3 separate regions of the Homo sapiens genome follow, and regions 2 and 3 are each reported to be linked to region 1. The links are microRNA targets in miRTarBase. Many come from high-throughput screens and were not tested one by one. Region 1 holds a microRNA gene; each other region holds the end of a gene's coding sequence.
Evidence for each region. Region 1 holds the annotated microRNA hsa-miR-5187-5p (UGGGAUGAGGGAUUGAAGUGGA, at 3,143-3,164, opposite strand). A microRNA usually pairs through its seed, bases 2 to 8, with sites in the 3' UTR of a target mRNA and lowers its output. Matches are read on the target gene's strand: a 7mer-m8 pairs with bases 2 to 8, a 7mer-A1 pairs with bases 2 to 7 and ends in A, and an 8mer does both.

Region 2: miRTarBase lists ZFP91 as a target of hsa-miR-5187-5p. Seed matches in the 3' UTR shown: 7mer-m8 at 4,204-4,210.
Region 3: the mRNA of NIPA2 is a reported target of hsa-miR-5187-5p. Seed matches in the 3' UTR shown: 7mer-m8 at 533-539 and 7mer-m8 at 632-638.

Annotation. Positions count from the first base shown.
Region 1 is chr1:161,224,674-161,230,358 of GRCh38, reverse strand. It overlaps MIR5187 (microRNA 5187), which reads right to left and starts at 3,173; the gene lies at 3,098-3,173. TOMM40L (translocase of outer mitochondrial membrane 40 like) reads right to left here and starts at 4,299. Exons shown (of 10, transcript NM_032174.6): 1 at 4,223-4,299; 2 at 3,755-4,004; 3 at 3,404-3,471; 4 at 3,009-3,101; 5 at 2,622-2,723; 6 at 2,370-2,475; 7 at 2,051-2,173; 8 at 1,855-1,931; 9 at 1,542-1,644; 10 at 1-1,403. The coding sequence starts at 3,869. The coding sequence ends at 1,264. NR1I3 (nuclear receptor subfamily 1 group I member 3) reads left to right here. Exons shown (of 9, transcript NM_005122.5): 9 at 433-690. The coding sequence ends at 562. RefSeq lists enhancers at 2,560-2,739, 4,254-4,323, 4,784-4,893.
Region 2 is chr11:58,611,358-58,622,469 of GRCh38, reverse strand. ZFP91 (ZFP91 zinc finger protein, atypical E3 ubiquitin ligase) reads right to left here. Exons shown (of 11, transcript NM_053023.5): 6 at 10,732-10,866; 7 at 10,142-10,192; 8 at 9,630-9,708; 9 at 8,127-8,241; 10 at 5,655-5,754; 11 at 920-5,274. The coding sequence ends at 4,764. It overlaps ZFP91-CNTF (ZFP91-CNTF readthrough (NMD candidate)), which reads right to left. Exons shown (of 13, transcript NR_024091.1): 6 at 10,732-10,866; 7 at 10,142-10,192; 8 at 9,630-9,708; 9 at 8,127-8,241; 10 at 5,655-5,754; 11 at 4,902-5,274. Among named protein-coding and RNA genes, the nearest start is that of CNTF, 5.8 kb to the left of the region's middle.
Region 3 is chr15:22,866,561-22,877,950 of GRCh38, forward strand. It overlaps NIPA2 (NIPA magnesium transporter 2), which reads left to right. Exons shown (of 8, transcript NM_030922.7): 8 at 1-1,824. The coding sequence ends at 287. It overlaps CYFIP1 (cytoplasmic FMR1 interacting protein 1), which reads right to left. Exons shown (of 31, transcript NM_014608.6): 27 at 8,639-8,711; 28 at 7,990-8,084; 29 at 6,931-7,169; 30 at 6,265-6,412; 31 at 492-3,632. The coding sequence ends at 3,468. Among named protein-coding and RNA genes, the nearest start is that of NIPA2, 34 kb to the left of the region's middle. RefSeq lists enhancers at 6,684-7,359, 6,685-6,979.

The DNA.
Region 1 (5,685 bases):
CTGTGATTTATCCAGGCTCTGAGGTATGCACCGCTTCTGTTTTGCTCGTTCCTCCAAGAGCTAGTTTGGCCAGAAAGGGGATGCTTTATACCATAGAACACATCCACCTTCTAGAACCTGCTCTAGAAGGCCAGGCCCTCAGATTCCACATGGTTGGAGTTCTGGCCAAGTCTGGAGCTTTCTTCACACTCGGCTCTCAGAGCTCTGGGTTCAGAAAAAACTGAGCATGGTGAGAGAAGACAGTGTCAGACCGAGGCCCCCTGGAGGACCTTTGGAACCTCTGATAGTCTGTCATACCAGAGCATGATTTTCTCTAATGTTCAGACCTGGCTTCACTGAGGAATAGTTCAGGGGATCAGGGCCTAGAGACAAGACTCCCAACTGCCTTATTTCCCTCCTGTTTTCCTGGCAACCCCACTACTTCCTCCAAAGGTTTCTGTATGCGAAGTTGCTAGGCCTGCTGGCTGAGCTCCGGAGCATTAATGAGGCCTACGGGTACCAAATCCAGCACATCCAGGGCCTGTCTGCCATGATGCCGCTGCTCCAGGAGATCTGCAGCTGAGGCCATGCTCACTTCCTTCCCCAGCTCACCTGGAACACCCTGGATACACTGGAGTGGGAAAATGCTGGGACCAAAGATTGGGCCGGGTTCAAAGGGAGCCCAGTGGTTGCAATGAAAGACTAAAGCAATAACTGCCTCTTCATGCGGTCATGGGGATAGTGGGGGTGACCATAGGAACAAAGTTGTTCTCTGGAAGCACAGAAGATGGGAAGGAGGAAACCTCAGGGCTAAGAGGTAAAGAAGCTCCTTCTGGGAATGGGTGGGCCCCACTTCCTGAGACCAAACATCTAGCCCTTCAGCCCTACTTTCCCAGCCTTGGGAGGCTCTGGGATGGAAAACAGGATGGTCAGCTAATCCCATGCAGGATTAACCAAAGGGAAAGGAAGAAGGAAGCCTGAGGGCAAGGGGTGCCGGGGGAATTCAGCCATACCCCTTAATCCTTCTCCCTTAGTCCACAGCCACAAGAGCATGGGGAAGGTGATACTGGGGCTGGTAGCAGAGGGGGGATCCTCAAACCTCTGCCTCATCAACTGCCCCTGTGGCAGCTCCAGTTCTGAGGAGGGCATGGTCCTGTCCACCACTCTGCTCCTGGGTCCTAGAGATCACCCAGCAAGGTGGGCTCTGAAGAGGGGCCTAGTCTTTGGCCCTAGGGCACCTGACTCAGAGGTTCCAGCTGCTGTGGGGGCTGGCTCTGGACAACCTCAGCCCACAGTGATGCTGAAGCCACAATGGAATCTGTTGCGCCAGTGATTGAGGAAGGCTCCAAGGGCTAGGGTGACAGGCAGAGGGGGCATCTTCTTCTCCAGCACAGCACCTACACACCAGTTACTATCCACCAAGCCTGTTGGGGGAGAGAATACCCACTAGATTATTTAACAGGGATTGGAGGAAATAGTCACCAGAAGTAAGGTCGAGCTTCCCTCCCTCCTCTGCATCCCCCATTCCTCAGGATAGCCAAATGTCTCCCAATAACCCTCACCTCTAAATACCATGTTGGCCTGGGGCAGAGTCAGGTGGTAACCAAAGGAGAATGTTGTGTCTTGTAGCCTTGTGTTTGCCTCAAACTCCACTCCAACCTGAACCTGAGAACCATGGGCAAGGATGAGAGAGAGATCAGTATCAGTGAAGACCAGAAGGGTCCTGATGGGGAATCAGCAGAATGGAGGCATGCATGTAAATATATACACAGCGTGGTAGGAAGAAAAATAGGTCAGCAGGGCGATAGAGGTCCAGATGAACAGAAGTTCATGACTGACTTGCTGACAAGGAGGGAATGAGATCAGAGGTCTCACCTGTTCATTTGCCCTGTGGTAGTAACTTGCATGGGCCCCGCCTGATCCCACATTCAATGTAGCTACCCAGTGTACAGCTGTAAAATCCAAAGTACAGAGGGGAAGGAGTGTTAACTGTAGTATGACACAGGCCAGGAACCCCAGAAAAGTCCAGAATTGCCCCCCACCACCACCACTACTTCACTTCGCCCCATACCCGAGTACTTCCCAGCCAGTGTCAAGATGGCCCCCTCTTCGCCTGGCCGCCGGTGATAAACTAGCTCTCCTCCCAGCACCAGCCGATGAGTGAGGCTCTGCAGGAAGTGAGCAACCATGATCACTGTGGGGGAATGGGGAGACATGGAGTCAGTCATAGAGACAATATCCAGACCTGCTCCCTCACTCCCAATAACCGCCACCCCAGCCTGCCCAAGAAGTTCCTTTTCTAAACTCCAAACTGTACAGAAGATGAAGAGGCATAGTAACATTAGCAAATGGGCCGCCAAGATAAAAAGAACCCTGTCCCAGTTCCTCACCCGACTCCCCAATCAGGTCAGGATTTCCTAGGGTCAGAGTGGCTGTGTAGTCATCTCCCCGATACTCGCCATCAAACTGCCATGTCAGGAACTTGGCCTGCTGCGTCTGGGTGGCAAGAGCAAGAAGTAAAATCTCCCTCCCTCTTTATGATCATTATAGACTCTGCTCCTCCTTCCAAGCCCTCAGAGCAGGAAACCCGTGGAGGAGAAAGAGGAAGTGCCTCAGGGGATGGAGGCAGGAACTGTGGTCACCTGGAAGACAGCCTTAGCTCGGAGCCGCTCTGCCAAGAGGAGCAAGACCTGGGCGTTCAGGCTGCCACTGCTGTCCATATCCCCTACCACAGTGGGGAACACCTGTGGAAGGGTGTACACAGTAGTAAGGCTGAGCCGGATGGCACCACTCAGCCTAAACCCAAATATAGAACTTCATTAAGAGTGCACAGCGCCCCCTGGTGGAGTCACAAAGACACACTCTGGGCTCTTCACAGAAAATGTTTCTCTACCCTCTCTCATTCAGAAAAGACACAGAGAATCAGGTTACGGCCCATTCCTCCCCATAACACACACAATTCCTCTTCCTCCAGACCTGGGTCCCAGATTGGTTTTTAGGGAGATGACCCAGGTGTGTGGAGCCCTCACCTCAGTGGGACTGAGCTGCCAATCCCCTGCATAGGCCGCATGGAGGTGATATCCCGGCAAGCCCAGGGCACTCATGTGTATAGTGTGCGCCACCTGAGGAAAAGAGGATTCAGTGGAGAAAAGCGCATTCCTGCTCCACTTCAATCCCTCATCCCACCCTTAGTCTTTTCCCCATCCAGAGGGCCTCTCAAGAATCCTAAATATTCCAACATATACAGAGAAGGTCATCGGATTAAAAGCAACAAGTCCCACAGGCACGGAGGTAAAGAGAACCCCACATCCTCCCTCATTTGTCCCACATAGACTGGCTAGGGCTGGAGTACAAAGGAAAGGAGAAGATGATCCAGGGACAGGAAAGGGGGAATAGTAAGGAGGGGCCAGAGAAGTGGGAGCACCTGGAAATGGCTGCTCAGAACCTTGTTGACAACGAGCTTCACTCCCTCCATCTGTGCTGGGAATACATCTGAAGGGGGTAGGGGAAGGGAAGGAATAAGCACAGACAAAGAACCCCTACCCCAAAAGATAGTCTCCCCTTTCAATCCCATAGGGAACACTTTGGAGGAATTAACCTCCTTTCAAGTCCTGCAATGAAATGCTCCACTTCATTTGGGCACCTGATCCTCCCTGAGGCTGCATGACCCAGCTATGATCTCCCCTTTCCTGCTCCCATCGCCGGACATCCGGCATTCAAGACCCTCCACTCCTCTGCCCCTTCATCCTGAGACACCCAAGTGCCAAGTTCTCACCTTTGCATAGACGGTGCAGCTCATCGAAGCTCCCAGGGTTGGGCAGGGGTTCCTCTCGGCGGGGGCTCCGGCGGGGCAAAGTCCCCATTGGTGCCAGGCCCAATGTGTTCCCCATTTTAGTCCAGAGGACTGGGAAGAGCCGAGGTTAGCCTGTGAAAGGACGCTATTGCCCCTTTACCCCCCAACGGGCCCCACCCCCCATTATCCGGCTCCCCAGCCTCAGAAACTTCCACATGGTCCGACGCTACACCTGGAACAGGAAGAGTAGGGAAGGAGAGCACTCATGGAGAGACAACCCTAGGCACACTCCCGCCCCATCTTTGATCTCTCACCCCCACTTGTCACCCTTGTCCTCTCTCCCTTTCTCTGATCCTAGCCCCCACCACAGACTTCACCTAGCTCCCTAGCCTCTCTATTCTTCATTCCCAGGCCCCAAGACCAGGCCCGCAATGGTGCAGTATCCCTTACCATCTCAGACCATCATGCTGCCCCTTTCCCCCCGGCACACCCCGGTCATCTTGATGGGGGCAGCCATCTTGAGTGATGGCAGAACTGCAGCTTCACGCTGCATTCTTAGCGTGGCCGTAAGCGCCATCTTTGAATCTGGCAAAGAAAGCTGTCAAAGACCCAACCCAACCCTGATTGGGCCCCGCCCAATCAATGAAAAAAAAAAAAAAAAAAAAAAGCCTCGCTATTTACCATGGGCCAATGGGAAGGGAGGAAGAAAATGAGTGGCAGGTCTGACGGCCCAAGAGCTTCAACCCTGGAGCTGCAGAGGCGGGCAGGACTTGATTGGTGGCCCCTTAGACTTAAGTGGAAGGCTTTAGATCACTAGGCCTCTCCAAGGTCGGAAAAAAACTTGTGAGCGTACAAGACACTAGAGGGAGCATCTTGTAGCTTGGGCCACTGAAGCTCCTTCCACCCATGTAGTTTCATCCATGAGAAAAGTGGAACTACAGCTTGTAGACTGGCATAGTGTGAAGGGTGGCAGAAAGAACGATTATGAAGACTTCTTTGGAACCCTGGTTCATTTCTATCGCTCCCTTCTCTCCAAAGAACCCATGGGAAATCCTCCTCACAGCCCTCCACAGCACACCTCCAAATGAGTACTACTCATTAAGCGCAGCACTCCCTAGAACAGGGACCCACCCTTCTCTTCTGGAGGTCTACATCTCTCGAAGTCCCCGCTCTTGACCACTTGGTGGAATGGAAACGGGTGTGAGAGTTTGGCGCAGAGGAGTAAGTTCTAGCAGAACTATTCGCTGAAACAGCTGCTTTCTGTATTTAACCCTTCCTTCCCTGAGTCCCAAGGCAGAGTTGGCAAATAAAATCTAGGAATATGGAGCCTGGCCCCCAAAGGCACTCCATCCCAGGACCAGGGACAAGCCAAAGGGCTGACCTCAAGCACTAAGCGCTCCACAGGGGAATAATTGAAAATGGAGTAAGAGTTCTTGGTCTTGGAGGGTGAAGGGTGGGAGGAGGGAGAAGATCAGGAAAAATAACTAATGGATATTAGGCTTAATACCTGGGTGATGAAATAATCTGTACAACAAATCCCCATGACACAAGTTTACGTGTGTAACAAACTTGCATATATAGGCCAGGGGCGGTGGCTGATGCCTGTAATCCTAGCACTTTGGGAGGCCGAGGCGGGCAGATCACCTGAGGTCGGGAGTTCAAGACCAGCCTGACCAACATGGGGAAACCCCGTCTCTACTAAAAGTACAAAATTACCCGGGCGTGGTGGCGCATGTCTGTAATCCCAGCTACTTGGGATGCTGAGGCAGGAGAATCCTTGAACCCGGGAGGTGGAGGTTGCAGTGAGCCGAGATCATGCCATTACGCTCCAGCCTGAGCAACAAGAGCAAAACTCCGTCTCAGGAAAACAAACAAAAAAACCTGCACATATACTTCTGAATTTAAAACAAAAG
Region 2 (11,112 bases), not on the chromosome of region 1:
TTCTATGTCATTGTTTTGCTTTTGCACTTAGCAACAAGGTCACTATCATACCAATCCTCATGGCACCCCTGCCTAATGTAATCTATCTCACACACTTAGAATTAGTTCATTTTATTATCATTCTCCCTTATGCTTCCCATGTCTTTTTTCTCATAGGCTGGCGAAATGTTCATTCAATAAAATTGTTATTGACACAGCTGCCATTTATTAAGTATCTACCATGGGTCAGTCAGTAAGCTAAATACTTTAAAGCAATTCCATTTGATCTTCAGAATATTTCTGAGGTAAATGTTATTTCTCCATATAAGAAACTGAAACTTCAAGAAATAACATGCACAAAATCAAGTAACGAGGCTTGAATTTAAATAGAAGTCTGATTCTATAGTTGTCTCTCCCACTGACTTTCCAATTTCATTTTCTGTTTAGGTAGTTCACATCTTGTTCAAGAAACAAAGGGTGTGTGAAGTCCTTTAAAAACAGGATTTTTTTCACTCCTAACCTTACGTACTTTTTAAAGGTAATTTAATTTATACTTAAAAATCAAGCAAGGAAGCATCTCTAATTTCAATCACGGTGCCTTCCTGGTAGCTACATAGGAGGAGGAAGGTACTGTTTAGGCCTGTTCTCTTCCAAAGAACAGGAAACACCCAACGCTAACTTGGTAACATTTCTAAAGCAGTCTCACTCAAGTGACAACATGCTTTCCTTTTTTCTCCCCTACCCAGTCATACCACATGCTTCTTAAAATAAGAGAATGAGCTGGGCTTTGAAATGACAGTATAAAAGTTAAAAGGTACTTGGAGGGTTGTCATTCTATTGCATTTAACTTAGAAAATGATGCTTATTGGGTAAGGGCTAAATGAAATAATTAGCTTTCATTATTTATATCATAGATATTGCCAATAAGCTGAAACACATACCATCTTAGAAGCAAATTTATAAAAGTAAACAATAAATGGGAGATGTAACAGAGCAGCCTGGGCAGCTATCACAGCATGGCTTTTGGAAGGCAGAAGGATTATAGTTTTTTCTTTTTTAAAATAAAAATCAGTACTTGATATAAACATTCAATTTTGAGAAGAAGTATTAATATTAAATGCTATCAAGGTTTTGTCATTATCAGGGTAAAATTAACCTCACATAATCCTTAATTTTCCATCTACTAGGTTAATTAACATATGGCCAGTTTTCCTAGGAGGCAGTTGTCAAAACATCAAGATTTCCAAGTTTGCTGAATAACAGAATCATGTCATTTCAGCATTAGAAATCAAGAACAGTCAAAAATTAACCACCTGATTCTCAACAAAAGCAAACAATAGTATGCCCCACATAACACCTGTTCTGAGGGCATTTGGTTTGCTTAGCAGCATCACATGTTTCACCCCTAGGATAACTGTAACTCAGTACAACCAAGGAAGACAAGTTGCTTCCATGAAGACAACTTTTATTTTTCTTCTTTACATATTTATTTTTAATATGCCTTACCTAGAATAAGAGAAAACAAAGATTTGAAAAGCAAAGTATCCCTTTTATTATAATTTCTTTTTACATAACCTTTTCAACCTATATTCAGGTAACTACCTGTCTCTCCCATGAAAGGAGAAGGGTCCTGCACATTACAACAGGCAAAAAAGGCTTTTAAGAAATAAAATATTTTAAATTGATCCATTACATTTGTTCAATTTTCTTGAGTACATTGGAAAGTGGGAAAAACACAAAAGGAGAAAAAAATGGTATTTCAAACAACCAGACTATAATAATCTTAGTTAGATTGGTAGTACACTCATTATACTTTTTCCCCAAACAGGTACAAAGGAGGTTCAAGTGCTCTATGTGGATGCTAGTCTATACCTCGATATTTTTATTTTACTCCCAGTACTCCCACGGCCATGGCCAGTGTTTGCCTAAATTCTCTGAAGCATATCAAGGAGTCTCAGTTACGCAAAACAACCTTGGGCAACCACAAAGAAGAGGGATGCACATCTCCCAGAAATATTAAATAGCTGTATCTCAACTACAGTTTCAGAATTTAGAACCACCAATTCAAGATGGAAATATGCAGTGGGAAGAGTTATTAAAAAGGTAACAGAATTTGACTAAGAGCATGAAATGTAGAACTTTAAGATTAAAAGAGCTCCCTGGAAGGACAATGAGGCATATGGAGCAGAAGGGAAAGCAGGGAAACGGCTGAGATAGTTTAATTACACCAACTCTACTATGCAGCATCCCTTTATCAAAAGGAAAAATATAAAGTCTATAAAAAATATTTTAGTATTGCAAACTGCTGCAATAATTTATTGTAGGCAAATGGTAGCTATAAAGAGGGTCCTTGACCCCTAAAAGAAAAGAAAAAGTACAGCAAGTTTCTAATTAGTAGAACTAACTAGTTGTTTTTTTGTTGGGAGAGCGGTATAGGAAAGGAGAATACATTTTCTCCCATCTCAGAAAGATTTTTAAAAATGCAGTTTGCTTTTGTGTAGGTGGCTAAAATATCTGATGACTAACCACTGCAAATGAAATTTACGGAGACAAAGGATAAGTGTGACAAAAAAGCTAAGTGTGGAATATAGATGCTAGTTAGTCAAAAAGTGTAAAAGGGACCTGAGAGGAGGACAACTTTTTTGTAGATTCATCTAATCAATCTTGTATTTTCAAATCTAGTCAATATACCAAAGTCGACTCCAAACCATGTTGGCAGGAAAGCATATTCTACATCCCTTCTATCTTTATTCCATTTTCTATCCCCATATTATGGAGAAATGGCAAATCTGCAACACTCTGAAAAGAAACAATAGCGCATTTGAGACTGGTGATTGTAGGTGTCTCACTCTCTGTTCCCTGGCATCCCAAATGCTGACACTAGTTGGTATAAAGTAAGCCTCTTTCAGAAATGACATTTTGTTACTCCTCTTTTTGGGAAAAAAGAATTCTTTGAAAAAATTGATAAGCCATGTTTGTGAAACACAAACTGTTCTTTTTTTTTTTTCCAGCAAAACGTCATTCTTTCCAAGAGCCATCATGCATTTCTGACAATAAACAATGAATAGGGTAAGCCTTCGATTCTAGCTTCTGAGGCACACAGGATAGGAATTACTCTTTACCTGAAGATGAGCCAAAATAGGATTTGGGGCTTCTGGCGGTATGACCTTGTACAAAAACACTACCTTTTCTCTCCAGTGAACAGCAATAAGCAATCTATTCCCCAACACAACCTCTATCCCAAGGAAATTGTGATGCCCAGAATTTTAGGTGAAAGCCAAAGCAATTATTATATAGGATTATTAACTTTGGCTATTGAAGTTTTTCCTCTTCAGAAGTGTTACTAAAGGGGAAACAGAGCAGTTTTCTTTGACTTAAAATTTTAGGACTCATAGACTTTGTTCCTTCACTAACAGCAGTGTCCTTCACTAACAGGGAGCTGGAATGAACTGATAAAGCAAAGCAAGAAACAAAAAGCAAGGAGCCAGAGATGGGCCCCAAGGGAAATGTAAGGAAATGGTAGGGACAAAAAAAAAGGAAAAGAAACAAATTCACAAGAAACAATCATCTATCTGTAATTTAGATTCTGAACAACCCTCCTCACCCTCTCAAAATTCTTAAGTTTCAACACTGTAAAAATCTCAAAGAGCATACTAGTTACCATGAACCTAACATTCTTCCCTAAAAAGGCTTCCAAAAAAGCACTAGGCTATTGTAGTGATTTTGTTAGTGCTGAGGACCAGCTTTCTTTAAAAGCCACTGGAGAGCTATGATTTCAGAGGCTGGCTGTGCTTCTTCAACCCTATGTCTTGCCTTCAAAGTACCTGTTATGGAAGGGATCCCATGTCAAAATAATCTAATCTCTCTCTCCCAGCCCCACAAAATATAGCAACAAAGACTCCAAAAAAAAAAAATCAGACTTCCTGTTAATAAATAAGGAATCTCAGGTTCCACAACACAAAAACACACATGTTCAAAGTGCAAATTTCTGCCATTAGCCTGGGACTTTTCTCATCGTCTCACTGATACAGAGCCCTGTCTTACAGTCAAAGAGACTGTAGAGGGCAGCCCCCTCCCTATTGGGAGCCTGCTTCCAAGCAAGTGAGCACCATTGAGAGCCATATGGAGGGTTGGGAGGGGGACTGAGATGCTGGGATCAAAGAAGGGGGAGGTGGTCCCCATATATCCTTCCTTTCTGAAACCCAGGGGGGAATAAAGGAAGAGGGGATGAGAGATGTGTGCTGTTTTAACAGCTCACCCTGCTAAGGGGCCCTAAAGTGCCAAGTCAAGCTGCCAGCCTCCAGAGATTAGAATTCTATGGTATTTGAAGATAAGTGTGCCGCAGGGGGTAGGAGCCAGAACCATAGGGCAGCAGTAGAGGAGGAGAAGGGATTTAGAAGACAGTAATATATGATTAAAAGTTAAAAGCTGATCCAGAGCACATCAGAGTTACAGGTTGGAAAGGGGGATCTGCCGATGAGCAGGAAGTCTGCTGATGGCTGGAACCGAGTATGAGAATAACCCTCACTTTAAGAGCTGCTGCTGCTTCTTTTTTGTCTACCTTTCTGGTAAAGACAACATCAATTTTATAAGGGGAGCAACAGAGGGAGAACAGGGGATGGGGAGGTGGAGGGTGTATGTATGTGTGTGCTGTGATCCACAATGGAAAGAGCAGGCCCTTCAGTTATTTCACTAGATTTTAAATGCTTTAGATTTTTTTTTTGTCCTTTTTAACTTTTAAATACAAAGTCTGAGCTGTCCCATGCCCCAAGTCTTCCTGTCCACTAAGGTCCGGCAGAGTCTGAATCTTCAATCAGAACCTCTGTGGTAGCACCGAGTATATCTGAGTTCATAACCAGCCCTTCAGTGCCTCCACTGCTGCCGCTTCCCACAAAGATCTTCCCATCAGCCATCAGGCTCACCCGTTCCGTCCCACTGCAGTATGACTTTGACATCCCTTCAGCTTCTAACAGTAGGCACTCTCCAGAGGTTGAGTTTCCCAAGGGCTCAGGAAGAAGAGGAAGACCCTGACCATCTGAAGGCTGCGTCAGGGACTCTGGGTTAGTGCCCAAGATATCTGTGCTGGTGATGAGGGCGCCTGCATTGGCAGCCAGAGCTTCTGCAATCAGCACCTCAGGGTGGCTTTTTGCCTTGTGTGCCACTACGCTGTCCTTCTTCTCAAATTTTTTGCCACAGATATTGCAAGAAAACTGGTAGAAGGAGTCTGCATCATGTTTCTTCATGTGCCAATTAAGAGATGCCTTTTGTCGACAAGTAAATCCACAGATCTCACATCTAAGGAGAGGAGAAAAGGAAATGGCTGATCCAACAGAGAAATAAAGAGTGCTCTTATTCAGGATCAGGGTTAGAGTTTAGAGCATATATATACATACACACACACACACACACACACACACACAATAATCAGTAACATACTTCTTTTGAAGGATTGGGAAATGTTACTAGATGGAAAACTAATCTGATCTTCTTCTGTTTGCCTGAAAAACAGAGGGAAACTAAGAAAAAGGCTACTAACTAATGCCCCCAATCAATATCCACTCATTTATTTGATGAAAGTAAACAGCAGTGGCAACTAATATGTTTGTAAAGCGGCAAACCTTCAAGTAGGGCATATATCCTTCTCACCCAGATGTTCACCAGTAAATAATACTCACTGTAATGGCTTCTCGCCAGTGTGAATCATCCGGTGCACTGCCAGATTGTGGGAACTCTTGAAGGCCCGAGCACAATATTCACAGATATAATCCCTTTGATCTATGAAGAAAATACTGTGGTTAGTGTTCTATTTAGATACCCTGTAAATATTTTCCCTTACAGTAAGTAAGCAGATGATGGGGCAGGCAATTTAGAGTAAAAGCAATGCTGTTTTCAATGTATAAACACTTTGGGTAAACAAAATTTAAAAAAGAAAAGTATTGCTTTAAAAAAAATCCAACATTCAGTAGCATAAGGACCTGTTTAAAAAAAAACAAAAACAAACAGAAAAACTAGATAAAAATATAAGAAATGGAATCCTAATCTCAATTTTACCACTAATCCAGGTCTTGGATACCAAGTGGTTAGCAAGTAAACAACTATATTTTCCATATATTTTACTCCTTTAAGGAGTAAACAATTTTTTTCACAGACAATGAAAACTGAATGATTACACAGAAAGAATCTGGCATTCAAACAAAACAAAAACAAAAAACAAGAACTTGGCACTGTATAGAAGAAAACTGATCTAAAGGTAATCATACCCTGTTTCAGGTTTAAAAAATGTTACTCAAGATAAACTTTTCTCAAAAGACTGGAGTTGCTGCTATCAAATATATGTAAATAACACCTGTACTACTTTACCTTATTCTCCTACCCATCTTCTGCACCTTTCAACTACCTCCCTTTGTCACTCACAACACCCTCAACCCCATTATGCAGGATTTCTGATGAATGTGGTAACACGGTGTGGAATCTATGAGGAGGAAAAAGGAGCATTGTACTTATTCATTTCTTTACCGTGTTTGGGAAGCCCGTGCACAAAGAGATGCTCTCTATATATATTTGTTGAATTAATGACCACTACATTTTCTACTCCTTTTGCTTCAAATTACCAGAATTAATGAGAATGAAAACATGAATTTAAGTTAAAAGGTGAACAATATCCAATTTAATCTTATACTCCTTTCCAAACAGCTTAGAGATCACCTGGATAGCTTATTAAATGTATATGCTGATTCAGCAGGTCTGAAGCAGGGCCTGAGATTCTGTATCTCTAATAAGAACCCAAATGATGTCAATGCTGGTTGGTCTGTATTCCATACTTTATATAGCAAGGTCTAAAAACGCACAGTTCTAACTTAGGAAACTCTTAGCATCTCCCAGGTCATGTCCACATTTCCAGTTCCATAGCAGGACAAACCTGTGTGGGGCATCTATTTGCTAAATAAATGACATTTGCAAAAAAAAGTCTGTATATACTAATTTGCAAAAGTAAAACATCATAAATTGTATTAACCAAATATAAATATTTGAAATGGACTGAATTTATAAAAGTTTTTCATACGCTTTTGATATTTAACTAAAACAATCTAAAGTGGCTGTCAGAAACAACTTTTCTATGGCATAAAACAGTATTAACAGGGAGCAGAAGGAACAGAGAAATTGCAGTACCTATCAAGAAACAGAAATAACTGTTACTTGTGGAAATAACTCTGAAGAAACATGGTATAAGAAAACTGTAGACTTTGGAGTGATTAAGATTCAAGTTCAATCCTGGTATTGTGCCAGGCTCTGTGTAGTCAATAGCATTTTATGTTATCTCATTTCATCCCTACAATAACTGATATTGGTATCCTTAATACACAGAGAAGGAAAAGTGAAAAGAGAAGTTAAGTAACTTTCCTACAGTAAATGAAGGAGTTATTTCATTTATCAGTATGACCTTGGGCAGGAGACATATTTCTACAACTAGAATTCCTAGACTTACTCTCTAAGACTGTTGAGAAGGTAATGTGTAATTATCAAGTGTCTGGGACATACTCAGTGGTATGCACCCAATTTGTTCCTATTAGGTACACTGCACTGAGATGGTCAGTGGTTACAAATAAATTGAATTTGAGTCTATTCTATAATACATATTGCAGACACTCAGCAACTCTTTTTGACAGTTCCTATGGGAGTTTACATGCAAATTCAACAGCTAGACTTCACAGTTTCAATAGCAGCAGAGTATTATGCTTCTCCTAAAAACTAGCTATGTGACCATGGGCAGGTTACTTAATCCTGCCAAGCTTCTAGTTTCTTAGCTGTAAAATAAGATCAATATAAACAAATTTAGTGGTGTTGAATAGACTAATTAGCAATAATATACATAACGTATTTAGTCCACAGTTGATACAGAATAAATGCTCAATAGAAGATCATTATCCCGGTCATAGAAGTTCAAGAAGTCAAAGGATAAAAATTCAAAAGTCCTAGTCTGCCCATCCCTTGTAAAATTTGTCTTACTACATTTTATTTTCACACCTTTTCCCCGCACTTGACTATAGAATCTTTTAAGACTTATGTTAGAAAAACGTTATCATTACCAACATGCAAAACTAAAGCACAGTGCAATTACCTACTTGATAAACACATTTTAAAAGTACCTGTATGATGTTTGGCATGTCGCAGAAGTTGCTTCTGAAGCCTGAAGAGTCGTCCACAGGAGGGATGGGGACATACATATTTCTTCTTCAGCAAATGCTGGTATTTAATGTGGTGCTAAAACAGAGAAAGTGAAAGGGGCGAAAAAAAAAAAATTAAGGCTTCCTGAAAGTACTTGTCTTTGCTAAGTCAAAAGTACTGAAGGAAAACCAAATACTTAGATTTCACACATGGATAGTGAGGGAGTATAATAAAGTGGCTAAGAACATAGGTGGAAATACACAGACCTGGTTTCCAATCTGGGTCTGTCATTCACTAGCCTTTGTAATCTTAGGAGACAAATATTTCAAGCTCCAGTTCTCATTTGTAAAATGGAGGTAACAATAACCATCTCAAAGTGTTGTTATGGGGATAAGAGATTATGTATTGTACTGTGCTTTAGAGCAGCAAATGGCACACAGCAGAGGAGGAGCGGCTATTGTTATAACTGAACCACGATCCAGAAGAAGGCCTTCGTGTCATGTTATATTTGTTGCTGAAGATCAAACAGGTATTTCCTAAGCAGTATTTCACTTTCACGTTTCCTGCCAGACCTAAATATAAGTGGTACGTTTACTCATCAAAAATAATAATAATAATCTACTCAAGAAAAATAAAAACAAAACCTCAACTAAAAGTCTTTTATTCATTCTACACAGTACCCAAGAAATCACAGGTTTGAGTTCTAATTTTACTTTTTTTCTAAATCACTTTAAAATAAAATGTTACTCTGTATTTACACCACATTGGGAATTACTGTAATATTGAAAGATTCCAACGAAAGTTCTCTATGTGGGTTCAGATTCTTAGTCACCTCTTTTTAAACAGGAGGTGCTATGAATTTGGATGTGTTCACCACAGTTCATGTGTTGGAAACTTAATCCCCAATGTGATAGTGTTGGAAGGCGGGACCTAATGGGAGGTGCTTAGGTCTTAAAGGCTCTACCCTTATATAAATGGGTTGATATTATCATTGGAGTAGATTTGTTACAAAAGCAAGTTCAACCCATTCTTGCCCTTCCACCATGGGCTGACACAGTTAAAAGGCTCTTGTGAGATGTGGGCACCATGCTTTTGGACTTTCCAGTCTCCAGAACCACAAGCTAATAAATAAATATATGTTCTTTGTAAATTACCCAGTCTCAGGTACTCTATTATAGCAGCACAAATGGACTAATCATGATTAACCCATTTATGCTGGAGGTTGCAAATGTATTTTTGTGAAAAATCAGACCTTGGTGATGACCTTGAACAGTAGGATATAAATAACTTGCCCAAGCTTAGCATTCTAATAATGGAACACTAGGCATAAATGGGTTAAAGTCATTTTATGTTTAAAGAAAGACTTTTCTTGACATTACATGTCAATGATAAAGCCTACACAAGCCAACAAATTAAAGTCTCGTGGTGCAAGAACAAGTAATGGAACACAACCTGAAAGGCTCTTATATAACAACTTCACTGACCTGCAAATAGCGAGGATGGGCAAGGACAGTTCCACATCCTTCCATCTCACAACGGACATACTGGATTGGAGGCTTTTTTCTATTATCAAAATGCAGAAGAAAAGTTAGCAAAAAAAAAAAAGTGGTACTCTGCACAGTGGCCTCTGACTTAAACTGTGCTATTGGGAATAGCTATTTTATAGTAGGAAGAATTAAAATCTCTTTACTACTATACAGATTACACAGAATTTGTATTAGAAGTAACCAAGAATTAGCAAATATTTGACAGAATTAAAAAGTAACACAAATAAACTAATGACCCCCCAAAGGTAAAGTATTAAGATTGTTAGAAATTTCAAGCTCTTACAATGAAAATAAGATCATAACACCTGTGCATCTAGGACATTAGTGAAGTTGCTTTTGTGAAATTTTTAAATAGCCATTCCTGCAGGATTATCATGAAGTCTAAATTTGTGAGTAAAGTGCCTGGTACTGGAATAAGGTGTAAAACAGTAGGGGTAAAAATTCCTCACCTCCTTTTGGGTAAACGTGGACTTTTGTCATCTTTTCGTCTTCTTCCTCTCCTGTAATTGAAGACAGGGTAACAGTAGACATATTCTGAATCAAAACTACACAGTGAAGGCTGGCTGAAGACACACACACACACACACGGCCAAAGAACAAGTGGCAAAGGATAACCAAGAATACATAAAGTCAAAGATATATCTGGCAAATCAAGCAAGTAATTTTACCCTGAAGTAATTTCACTTTCAAATCAGTCTGTAAGACAGATTAAATATATACCTTCCATAAACTATGCAATACTATGAAAGACTTAGAAGAATCTCAATGTATTACTTTTAGAGTTGCTACCATGTATCATCTAAAAACACTAAGATTAAAAAATACCTTCTCCTTGCAATAGAACTGAAAAACCTAAACATTTTTTTACTAAGAGTCTCTCCAGTGAAATTGTCAGCTGCTTGAGGCCAAATTTTTTTAAGTTAAAAAATACATATTTTGAAGCATGTATACGTCAACATCCTTCCTCACACTCCCACTCTTTTTTCCACTAGTCGTTCAAAATCTGTTAGATTTTCATTTTTAATAATTGCCTACTCACTTCCTTGGAGGTTCCTCATCCTCTCTAATTTCATTCTCCTCTTCTTTCACCTCCACCTCTACTTCCACTTTAATTTCCTTCTTCTCCTTCTCTTCTTTTACCTTCCCTGATTTTCTCCGTGGCTTTGGGGTTTCCCTGAAAACACAAATGCATTTCAATACTAGACAAAAGATCTTTTCAAGGAAGACTATGACAACAAATTAAAGCTTAGAGTTATCACTGATTTGTTATAAAACTACCTTCCTCAGTTCATGAAATGTGATTTCCTACCAATCATCCTCACATGCATAGTAATGATCCAAATATATGTATATGTTGCTCATGGAATGAACCCTCCCCAGACTAAAGATGCCTGTAAATCAAATTTCACTATAATTGTAA
Region 3 (11,390 bases), not on the chromosome of region 1:
TTCTTTTTAAGGAGTGGCAAGATATGCCTGTTGACGATGTCATTGGTACTTTGAGTGGCTTCTTTACAATCATTGTGGGGATATTCTTGTTGCATGCCTTTAAAGACGTCAGCTTTAGTCTAGCAAGTCTGCCTGTGTCTTTTCGAAAAGACGAGAAAGCAATGAATGGCAATCTCTCTAATATGTATGAAGTTCTTAATAATAATGAAGAAAGCTTAACCTGTGGAATCGAACAACACACTGGTGAAAATGTCTCCCGAAGAAATGGAAATCTGACAGCTTTTTAAGAAAGGTGTAATTAAAGGTTAATCTGTGATTGTTATGAAGTGAATTTGAATATCATCAGAATGTGTCTGAAAAAACATTGTCCTCAAATAATGTTCTTTAAAGGCAATCTTTTTAAAGATTTCACTAATTTGGACCAAGAAATTACTTTTCTTGTATTTAAACAAACAATGGTAGCTCACTAAAATGACCTCAGCACATGACGATTTCTATTAACATTTTATTGTTGTAGAAGTATTTTACATTTTCATCCCTTCTCCAAAAGCCGAATGCACTAATGACAGTTTTAAGTCTATGAAAATGCTTTATTTTTTCATTGGTGATGAAAGTCTGAAATGTGCATTTGTCATCCCCACTCCATCAATCCCTGACCATGTAAGGCTTTTTTATTTTAAAAAAACAGAGTTATCCCAATACATTATCCTGTGATTTACCTTACCTACAAAAGTGGCTCCTGTTTGTTTGATGATGATTGGTTTTATTTTTGAAATATTTATTAAGGGAAAACTAAGTTACTGAATGAAGGAACCTCTTTCTTACAAAACAAAAAAAAGGGCAGAAATCACCCCAAGGAACGATTTCTCAGGTTGAGATGATCACCGTGAATCCGGCTTCCTCTGAGCATTCGATGGCCTTAGCACCTCATCAAGCCAGCACATCCTGCCTGCTGTTGCAGCCTGGCTGGGTTTATTCTTCAGTTACCCTAATCCCATGATGCCTGGAACCTTGATTACCGTTTTACATCAGCTCTTGTACTTTTCAGTATATTTTCATAATGAGTTATATTGTCATTTAGACTTTGAACAGCTCTGGGAAATAGAAGACTAGGGTTGTTTCTTAAATTTAGCTCATGTTATAATAAAAAGTTGAAATGAAGTTCTTATTCTAAAAGTCTGAATGCTTAGAACAAACTTAACATGTTTATAGAATATGGTCTCTTTGTACCAAGTACTTTGCTTAAGAGCTCCTTTGGGCCACTACATATTTTGGTTTCTAGAAAATGTTTGTTTATGAAGAAGTCGATGGAAAACTGCAAACATATGCAGAAAAGGTAGAATAATAAAAAAGGTCTAATGAACTCCATTCAGCTTTGAACCTATCCACTCATAACCATTGACTGGCCTTTAAAAAAAAGTATTGGCAGAATTAATTTCCACCTAGGTGATGGGAAGAAAGTGTTCGCCTGTTCCAGCCTGTGGCTCCTGCCTGGAGGTTACCCAGTGGTGCGCCAGCGCCAAGCCATCACTCCCCGAGGGCCTCCCCTGCCAATGGTGCTGGTATCCCATGCAGCTCACCACTGGCTGCGTGGAAACTCCCTTTTTTCCAACTTTATTATTGGCCTTCTAAGGAGCTGTTTTAGATGTTTTTTCTAACTGCCTCCTCCCATGCCATTTTAATACTACAGATGTACTACGTATCTGTTTATATACTGTACCTACATCTGTGCTTTGTACATAAAAGAACCAGTTTTCTCCCCCTTGAGGACAGAGACTCATTTGAACATGCATAGGTTAATAAATAATAAATTCTTATTTAACATTTTGTAGCACTTGAGATTGTCTTATACCTAAGGTATTACATATTTGGTATATAATTAAGCCTTATAAAACTTGGTAATTGATTAAGTTTTACCATAATTTTTCATCCTATTCTGTAGTTTCTAAGATAAGCACAGCTACCACCTCTAAATCTGCAGCAGAATGCTGGCCCCAGGGTTATTAATTCACATTACCAAAAGCATTTTTAGGGAACTTTTTATAAAGAAAGAATAATTGTTTGTTAGGCTTCATGTCACTTGAGTGAGTTTGGCAGTGTAACAGGATGGTTCGTACACTTACTACTTTTCTGTGCCGTGCATCATATGCTTCTGGACAGTTTCCAAAGGCCTCCGGAAAAGTAGGCGAGGCCTGCTTTTTATGGCAACTTGGCATCCATAGAAAATTTTAAAATTGGTGAAGGTTGCAATACTCCAAATAATGTAAAATGACTGCCAGGCTACAATATAAAGTGAGTTCAGTTAATCATGCTGGACTTGTGTTTATCTGTAGTATTCATCTACAATAAACAGGCATAGCATCTTTTTCCATTCAGTTAGTTAGGATTTTCAGAACCTCATTGCCTTAGTACTTTTTAAAATATGGCTTTAGTTTCTCAAACATGTTCGTGACTCTACTGGTAGTCTAGACCGATTGTTTTTCATTCTGACAGATCATGTGAACCAGCTCCAGCCATGTGAGCCCTGTGGATCGGGGACAGCTGAAGGCTGGACTCGGTGCTCCCGGTCCCTTTGTGCAGCACCCACTGGGCCTGACTGATCTCCTCCCACATTGCTGGCTTCCTCCAGGTCATGGGCACAGGTAACAGAGAGGCACTGAGTAGCCTCTTCATATCCAGATTGGAGCAGCCAACACGGCCGTTTTACACCTCATTTGCCTGCGGAACCCTAAATATAAAGCTAAACCTGTGCTGAGGTGAGCGGTATATGGGATGGTGTCACGGTCCCATCCCACCTCAGCCTTAGAGGTGACCTCCATCCCAGCTGGCCTGGTATGTGAGTTCAGGTTAGAGTTCCTTGCCAAGCCAGGCAGCACAGGGTTAGAGTAAATAAATGAACACAAATAGATCTCATTAGTTTTATTTCTATAACCTTTCGATCTGATGTCACGTTAGATTTTGTCACAACTGGATTTAGTGGAAGCAGGGGAATCAAGTTCACTATTTTCTGAAACACACAAAAAAGGGATGGGAACAATGACTTAGAACTAAGATTGCTCATAAAAGACCATCAGAAAGATCCCTAAACAAAAGCTAAATAGTTACAGTTAATGGTAACTGGCAAGGGATTTAATGCATTTGCTGGTATTAAGTTTCTTATGGAATGAATGAATGAACCCAGCAGCATTTTATGACACAGCTGCCAGAACATCCCATAGAAAAACAATTTTGTAGGAACGTGATGGCAACAATCAGCAGCCAATATTCTCAAGAGTTCCTAATTACCAAAAGCATATACAATTTTAGTCTAGAAAAATAAGTCAATTTTATAAAATTAAGTTTTTAGATCGAAAAGCACCCCCTTTAACAGGTACAGAGATACTGAAAAATAGTCCCTAAAAATCTCACTAAATAGTTTACGGAGAGAAAGGCATGCCATGTTGAGTTACGGAGTGCAGCGCGTGCCCTCAGCTGCTGGCGAGGGACTGGTGGATGGGCGGCTGGAAGCAGCGCACATGCTCCACTGGCGTGCCCTCCCCGTCGCCTGACTTCAGGTACTTATCCAGGATGGTGATGATCTCATCATTGAGAATCTGGAACTTGCGAATTCTCTCCACCATCTTCTTCAAAGGCTACAACCATCAAAGTGAGGATGTTTTACTATTAACACTTCAACATTTATTCTTCATGTTTCAAAATGTCAGGATTCTTATATTTTCTCAGAAAAATAATAGCAAACGGAATTGACACACATACTGTTCTTTTTGGGTTTTTTTTTGTAAGATAGGGTCTCACTCTGACGCCCAGGCTGGAGTGCAGTGGCATGATCACGGCTCACTGTAGCCTCAAGACATCCTCCCACCTCAGCCTCCTGAGTAGCTGGGACCACAGGCGTGTACCACCACACGCAGCTAATTTTTAAATTTAATTTTGTAAAGACAAGGTCTTATTATGCTGTCCAGGATGGTCTTGAACTCCTGAGCTCAAGCAATCCTCCTCTGCCTCAGCCTCCCAAACTGTTGGGATTACAGGTATGAGCCAGCACTCCCAGCCACATACCATCTCTTTAATGCAACAGTTGGAAGGATGAATATATTTTGAATTTAGAATCCCTCTGTTGGCTTCATGCTGCTGTAGATTCATTCATGCGCACAATTGATAGGCCTATTCCTTCCACATTGGCAATTAAGAACCTACTGTCTGCTCAAAGCTGGGGATCTCCAGATGAAGATGATGTGGTCAGTGGAGAAAGGCCAGTCAACTAACACAAGTTTTAGACTTCCAGTTTGGAAATACTGTGACGGGATACTCTGACAGACCCTCCTGCTACCACAGGAATAAAGAACACGAATTAAGAACATACACGCAAACAAAACGCTTTGAAAAGCTGGTTCTACCTATGCAGGTGGTAAGGGGGAAGCCAGGGCCTCCTCAGGGGCAGATGCCAACAGCGGCGGTGGGGTGAGGAGCAGCCCGGGCGTAAGCAAGCGGGACCACACCGAAGACTCCCCAGTGAAGCCAGGACCTCCAATTCGGCTAAAGCGGCCCTGAGTTGGTAGCACCCCATAGAGATGGGCAGATACAAATGCACATCTTGGGGGAAAGCAATCTAAATTAACTCCAGTTAAATAAAGACTCCCAAATAACCCAACACACAAGGAAACAGCAAAGTTTTAAATACCTCCAAGGCCTTCAGATACTAGAAGGAAAACACACAGAATATAGAATACATGAATTGGATAAAGAAATAAGAGATGGAAAAAGTTCAGTTAAGACAATAAAACTGTCAGTTACCAAGAAGATTTGAAGAACCTAATTGAACTTTAAAAAGTGAACTAATAATATTTTCAGAGTAAAAGCTCAGCAGATTAGAGCTGAAGTAAACAAGTTAACTAAGACACATGAATACAGTATCTGGACACAGCTCTGGGAGCCCCGGAAATGGAGGAGTGGGAGGCAGAAGGGCCCCTGAGAGAGGCCCATGACCTGGAGCCTGTGACTGCATTGCCTCCACTCCACGGGGCCTGGGCAGGTGTGGCTAAGACTGGACTGTAGAACAGGGAGAGTATCTGGGGTTGTCCAGTGGGCTCAATATAGTCACAGTCAGGGAATGTTCTCTGGCCGGAGGCAGGAGAGACATGGCAGAAGACTAGAGGCTGAGACTGCCCAACCCACCATTGCTGGAGGGGGCCACTTGGAAAGCATGAGAAGGAAGGGGGACCCAGTCCTACAGCTGCAAGGAATAATTGAGCCAACTGTGCATAAGCTTGAAGGCCTCCAGGGTGAACCCAGCACCTCAGACACTGGCCCCATGAGACTGAGCAGAGGACCCAGCTGGGCCTGGCTGAACTCAGGCATCTGACTTAGAGAATTGTGAGATAATCAGTGGTATTTAAACTGCCAAGCCTGTGGTGATTTGTTGTCATGGAAGCAATAGAAAACTAATACAACAGGGCTGGGCGCGCCTGTAATCCTAGCACTTTGGGAGGTGGGCGGATCACCTTATGTCAGGAGTTCAAGATCAGCCTGGCCAACATGGTGAAACCTAGTCTCTACTAAAAATACAAAATTACAAAATACAAAAATCAGCCGGGCGTGGTGGCAGGTGCCTATAATCCCAGCTACTCGGGAGGCTGAGGCAGGAGAATCACTTGAACCTGGGCAGCAGAGATTGCAGTGAGCCAAGATCGTGGCATTGCACCCCAGCCTGAGCAACAAGAGCGAAACTGTCTCAAAAAAAAAAAAAAAAAGAAAGAAAAAAGAAAACTGATACAACAAAGAGATGTGGAGAATAGAATGAGAAGGTCTAACATATGTTTAACTGAAGTCCTGAATGGCAAGAATAGGGAGAATGGAAAGGAGGCTGAAATATTTCAAAGATAATGGCTGAGTATTTTCCAGAATTCAACTATGAGGGATCCATAAAGCAACAAAGACAAAAGGCCTTTAAAGCAGCCAAGAAAGCACAGACTTCCAGGGGCCCGAAGACTATAGTTGCCAATATTCTGACAATGCAGATCCTGTAAGACTGGAAGTAAATCTAAGTACCTTGAGAAGGAAAACGGAACAATGAGTATTTTCTCTGCCAGACTGCTTTACTGGCCAATTATATTTAGATTCATTTTGGGAACGAAAAGAAAGTTTCTGTTGGTGGCACCTTACGTACTAGGATGAAAAACATTGCCAGAAACAAGAACTTATAACACAAAGAAAGTATGCTTTTGCAAAAGGTCCATAGATGGTGCGAGATTTTCATCCACATACCACATTTTTAATAATCTCATCTTTGCCATCATGTTTCTGGACTTTAAGTAGATGGTAGCAGAAATCCAGCACAGCAAAACGCCGCTGCTGCCCAAGAAGTACGATGATCATACAGCCAGCCCAGTGTAGCCCATCACCAAAGCACTGCCTAGGAACAAGAAGCAGAAACAGAATGGGAGATGAGTGATACGTTATGAAGTCTTTTCTCAGTCTGTCTCCAGATGTCAGTGACCAAGCCATCTGCATTACTGTCTGTGCCTACACAGTCACCTTCCACAGCCAGGAAGAGAATGCCGGGCAGCCAGGTGGCTGTTCCCTGGTTTTGATAAATAACTTTTTTGGGCTCTTCTGGTGTGCTGCTTCCTGTCCCTTTTTAGATCATATCCCCTCTGTGATGAATGACTCTATGGACCTCCCACCTAGAAAAATGCACGCCCAACGTGCATACAATTGCCGTGGGTTCAGAGACTCCCTGAATACTAGAGTCCTGAGTCAGCTCTTTGGCATCAAGTAAGAATCCCCACTACAGGAGGCTTAAAAGCCGCTCAGTGAGTTTCTGGTCCACTTCCTGAGCATGGCTGGCTGCTTGTTAGCCTAACACGCCTCCCCTCCCCCACAGCTCCTCCCCTCCTCTGGGGCTTTGTCCTGCTCTCAGCACACACTTACTCGACTGTGAACTCGTGTGTCCCCACGGGAATGCAGTAGACAAACTGCATGGCACTCCACAGTCTGTGAAACTCCACACACTCGTCCACATGCATGACCCCATTGCTGGGCAGAGGCCCGCGCCAGATGGGGTCATCCAGAAAGCTCCGGATCCGTGTCAGGATGACCTCAAACATGGACAGGCCGCAGCAGAGGCGCTCCTTTGTCAGCAGGTCCCCCTCTCTTGCGATGGCAATTTGCTGCAGAAAGGACAAGCCGTGGAATGCCGTGGGCCTCCAGGCATCCAGCTACTCCACATCCTCTATGTCTCTTTTCTCTTGAGACAGGGTCTTGCTCTGCTGCCTAGGCTGGAGTGCAGTGGCACAATCACAGCTCGCTGCAGCCTTGACTTCCCAGGCTCAAGCGACCAGGTGCATGCCACCACACCCGGATAATTTTTGTATTTTTTGTAGAGATGGGGTTTCGCCATGTTGCCCAGGCTGGTCTCAAACTCCTGTCTTGGCCTCCCAAAGTGCTGGGATGACAGGAATGAACCCCGGTGCCCGGCCCTGGAAAAATGTTTTGGGTGGAGCGGGTCTACTGGCAGCTAGTGTGGAGGCCAGGGATGCTGCTAACCATCCTACGATGCACAGGGCGCCCCAGCCCCCACCATAGAGTTATCTGGTCCAAAATGGCTGAGAAACCCTGACTTAGCATAAGCAGCTGGATCACTGTAGAACTCTACCCTGACACCTTGCCTCCTGGCCTAATTTCTTCTGTTCTTAAACACCTATGGGAAAGCCTTCTTCATGAAGGGCTGGACAGTGAAAGTGATGTCTTCTGTGTAAGCCTTACGTGCCAGGTGATGTGCTAAGCTCTTTCCAGGTGTTAGCTCATCTGAATCCTCCCACCACCCAGGGAAGCAGTCCTGGTGCACACCCCACTTGCAACACTTGAGGCCTGAGCAGCCACGCAGCCGCTGGACTTCACGATGCCTTCCAGTCTGGCTCCCAACCAGGCCACCTGGCCTGGCATGGATGCCCAGCTTGCAACAGCCACAGCCATCACGGTACACGTTACCTGAGGGGTCCCCAGTCTTTCAATCAGTGGGACAAGATGCAGCGGGGCGTACTTTGATTCTAGTCTTTTCATTTTGGCATCAAGTCTCTCCCCCTCTGCAGTAGAAAAAATATTTTACTATATTCTGCTCCTTTGTATGAAACGGTAATTGCAAAGGTTTACATTTGTTTAAAAAACAAAAGATTTTTAAGTTAACATTATGGATACAGATTCTCTTTGAAAATTATTTTACAGAACTGGCTCATTTAATATTTTAATTCAAACCGGCAGAACCAATTTTCTGCTCAATATTCACTTTTCATTTATTGAATATTCCAAATGTAATCGAAAGCAGAAAATGGCACAATGAGCCTGTACCCATCATCTGCTATAATTATCAACTCATGGCCACTCTGCTTCTTATATACCCAACTCCCCCTGCTCCCATGCTATTGATATTTGGAAGCAATTCTAAGACATCATATCATTGCAGCTCTATTTCTCAATCTTCATTTAACTAGGTTCTGTACACTCCTCATTACCCCTGGGTATGACTGAACAGGCGCCAAACCCACAATCTGCACTGGTCCTTAGCTCTCCGGTTGCATACAGTGGGCACCACCCCCACAGAGGGCAGTCTGGACTCCCTGGTGGGGGTCAGCAGGCTCACCTTTCACATGGACTCGCGGCAAGATGTTCTGGAAAGGAGCCGCGTGCAGCAGGTCACACACTTCTTCTAAAGACTAGAGCAGAGAAAGAGAGGGTCAAGCTAGGAAGGGTATCTCGCCAGAGAGCAATCTGGTGCTGAAAACCAAGAACTTCTTTGCCTTTTAGCATAAAATAAACTCTGTAAGTTTATTTTATCTCTGTCAAGAGATTTCTGGGATGATGGAAATGCTTCCGTCTGTCCTGTCCATTCCGGCAGCCGCCAGCCATGCATGCCTAGTAAGTACTTGGAATGTGGCTTGGCACTTGAGGAACTGAATTTTATTTTTAGTTACATTTAATTAATGTAAATATAGACACAGGTAAGACCCAGTGTTGAATGTGTGCTCTGTTTTCCAGGATTTACCTGTCTAAAAGCTCTCGCCCCATCCTTCCCTGCTAATTTGCCACCAGGCTCTTAAGAACCACAGTTTATGACAAGATCCCACCACACTGACAGAAGGAAGGGGCGTCTCCTGCAAACAACACAGGAGATGGAAGGAGTAGGGGTGGCCTACCCTGGTGTCCACATCCACTCATTCCCTACAGAGCCCAAAACAAAGTTCTAGGCCATCATGCCGAACTGCTCTTGGGTCACAAGCTCCTTTACAGAGGTAATAAAAACCACACAAGGTCCGTTCTCCAGAATAACATATATATATATAAAGAAAATGTACCTCCAGGATCATGAGGACAGCAGAACACCCCAAATCCACCAAGAACCCAAAGATGGTCAAAAATTGAGCAACTGCTGTTCATCTTTAGAGGTGAGGGCTCTTAGGCCACCAGGAAGGGCCTCTTCAGACCACAGTGCGCTCACCACCCCCACGGAGCAGGCAGAAGGTGATGGAGCCTTCAGTGCCTCCGACCCCACAGCCATGCTGAAATCTTAAAGTCCCATAGGAGTAAAAGAAATGATTAAACAAAGAAACAGCTATCAGAAAATCAAGAAATACCGACAATGAGATTTTAACTTCTGAGGACCTCCCAGAGATGATGGCAAAACTAAGACCAAGAGGAAGAAAGGCAGACTTTTCCGTACTCATCAACGTCAATCCAGTGCCAGACGCCGGCCAGACACCATCTGCTCCGCTTCTCTTTCCCTGTTTCTAATGCAGCATCACACTCCATCCAGAAGCCAACAGAGGGCCAACTGTTGCCATGACAATGCACAGAAACCGTGCCTTTAAGCTAAGAGATTATCCTAGTAAATTCCATTCTGCCTGCTTCAAACTCTTGTGGTTCTATAATTATTTATGTCCATGAGTCCTGGGATGGACATAAATAATTATAGAACCACAAGAGTTTGTTTATGTGAAGAATGTCAGGCCAGGTGCAGTGGCTCACGCCTGTAATCCCAGCACTTTGGGAGGGCGAGGCGGGAGGTCGGGAGTTCAAGACCAGCCTGACCAACATGGAGAAACCCCATCTCTACTAAAAACACAAAATTAGCCGGGTGTGGTGGCACATGCCTGTAATCCCAGCTACTCGGGAGACTGAGGCAGGAGAATCACTTGAACCCAGGAGGTAGAAGTTGTGGTGAGTCAAGATTGTGCCACTGCACTCCAGCCTGGGCAACAAGCGTGAAACTCCAGTCTAAAAAAAAAAAGAAATGATGTAAAGAAAAGCTTTTGACACTTTATCTTATTTCCAAAAAGGGCAGCTGGACAGAAGAGAAACCAGCCCTAAGGGGTCTCTGACACTATCTCTATCAATTCCACAAGGCTGTCTCCCCATTAAGAAAGCTCGGGTCTCACCTCCCTGACCTGAGGCCAATGACCAGACAGGCATCCTCAGGCTTGGACATACACAGAGGCTATGGTTTGGATGTGGTTTGTCCCTGCCAAAACTCATGGTGAAATTTAATTGCCAATGTAGCAGTGTTGGAAGGTGGTCCGAGAGGTGATGGATTTCTTACAGGGCTGGGTCAGTTCTCCCACAATTGGGTTAGTTTTTGTGGGAATGGATAAGCTCCTGCGAGAGCAGGTTGTTGTAAGCAAGGCTGCCTCTCATGTTTGTTCTCTTGGCAACACCCGCTTCCCCTTCTCTGTTCCCCCAGAGCTGAAGCAGCATGAGACCCTGACAGATGGGCTGCCTGATCTTGGACTTCCCAGCCTCCAGAGTCATGAGCCAAATAAACTCCTTTTCTTTATAAATTACTCAGTCTCAGGCACTGCCACAGCAACACAAAATGGACTAAGATAGCAGATGAGATAGGGCGCGCCTTATGCTGTAAGTTCAGGAAAAGTCACCCATGAAAGGAATATTCCTGTATTAAATATTTAAAATTCATAATGAGAGATTATACTTAAAGAGATGCTTCCTAACATCTGGTTTTTAACAATTCACAATTATTTGGGGAACATGTCCTTAGAGCAGGGCCACCCTGGACACTGGCTTCTTGCTGGTCTGAGACACTGGTGGGTTCTCCATCTTGTACCCCTCACACTCACAGTGGTGAGGGGAGCATGGGAGGAGATGCTACTTGGGGTCCCCACCGAGCCTGTGGGTGGCCAGGACAATGAAGGCCTGGGGCTGCTGCAGTCCCTCTTTGAAACCACCAGGAGAGGGTCTGCCTAGGCGTGCAGGCATAGAGGGAGCCGAAGATGCAGGTCTGATGGAGGCTGTCAGCTCCCAGGCGTGTCACGCCTGACCTCGGACTCCCCTGACATGTGAGCCAACACATTCTCTTTCACCGCACAGGCTGGTGTGAGGCG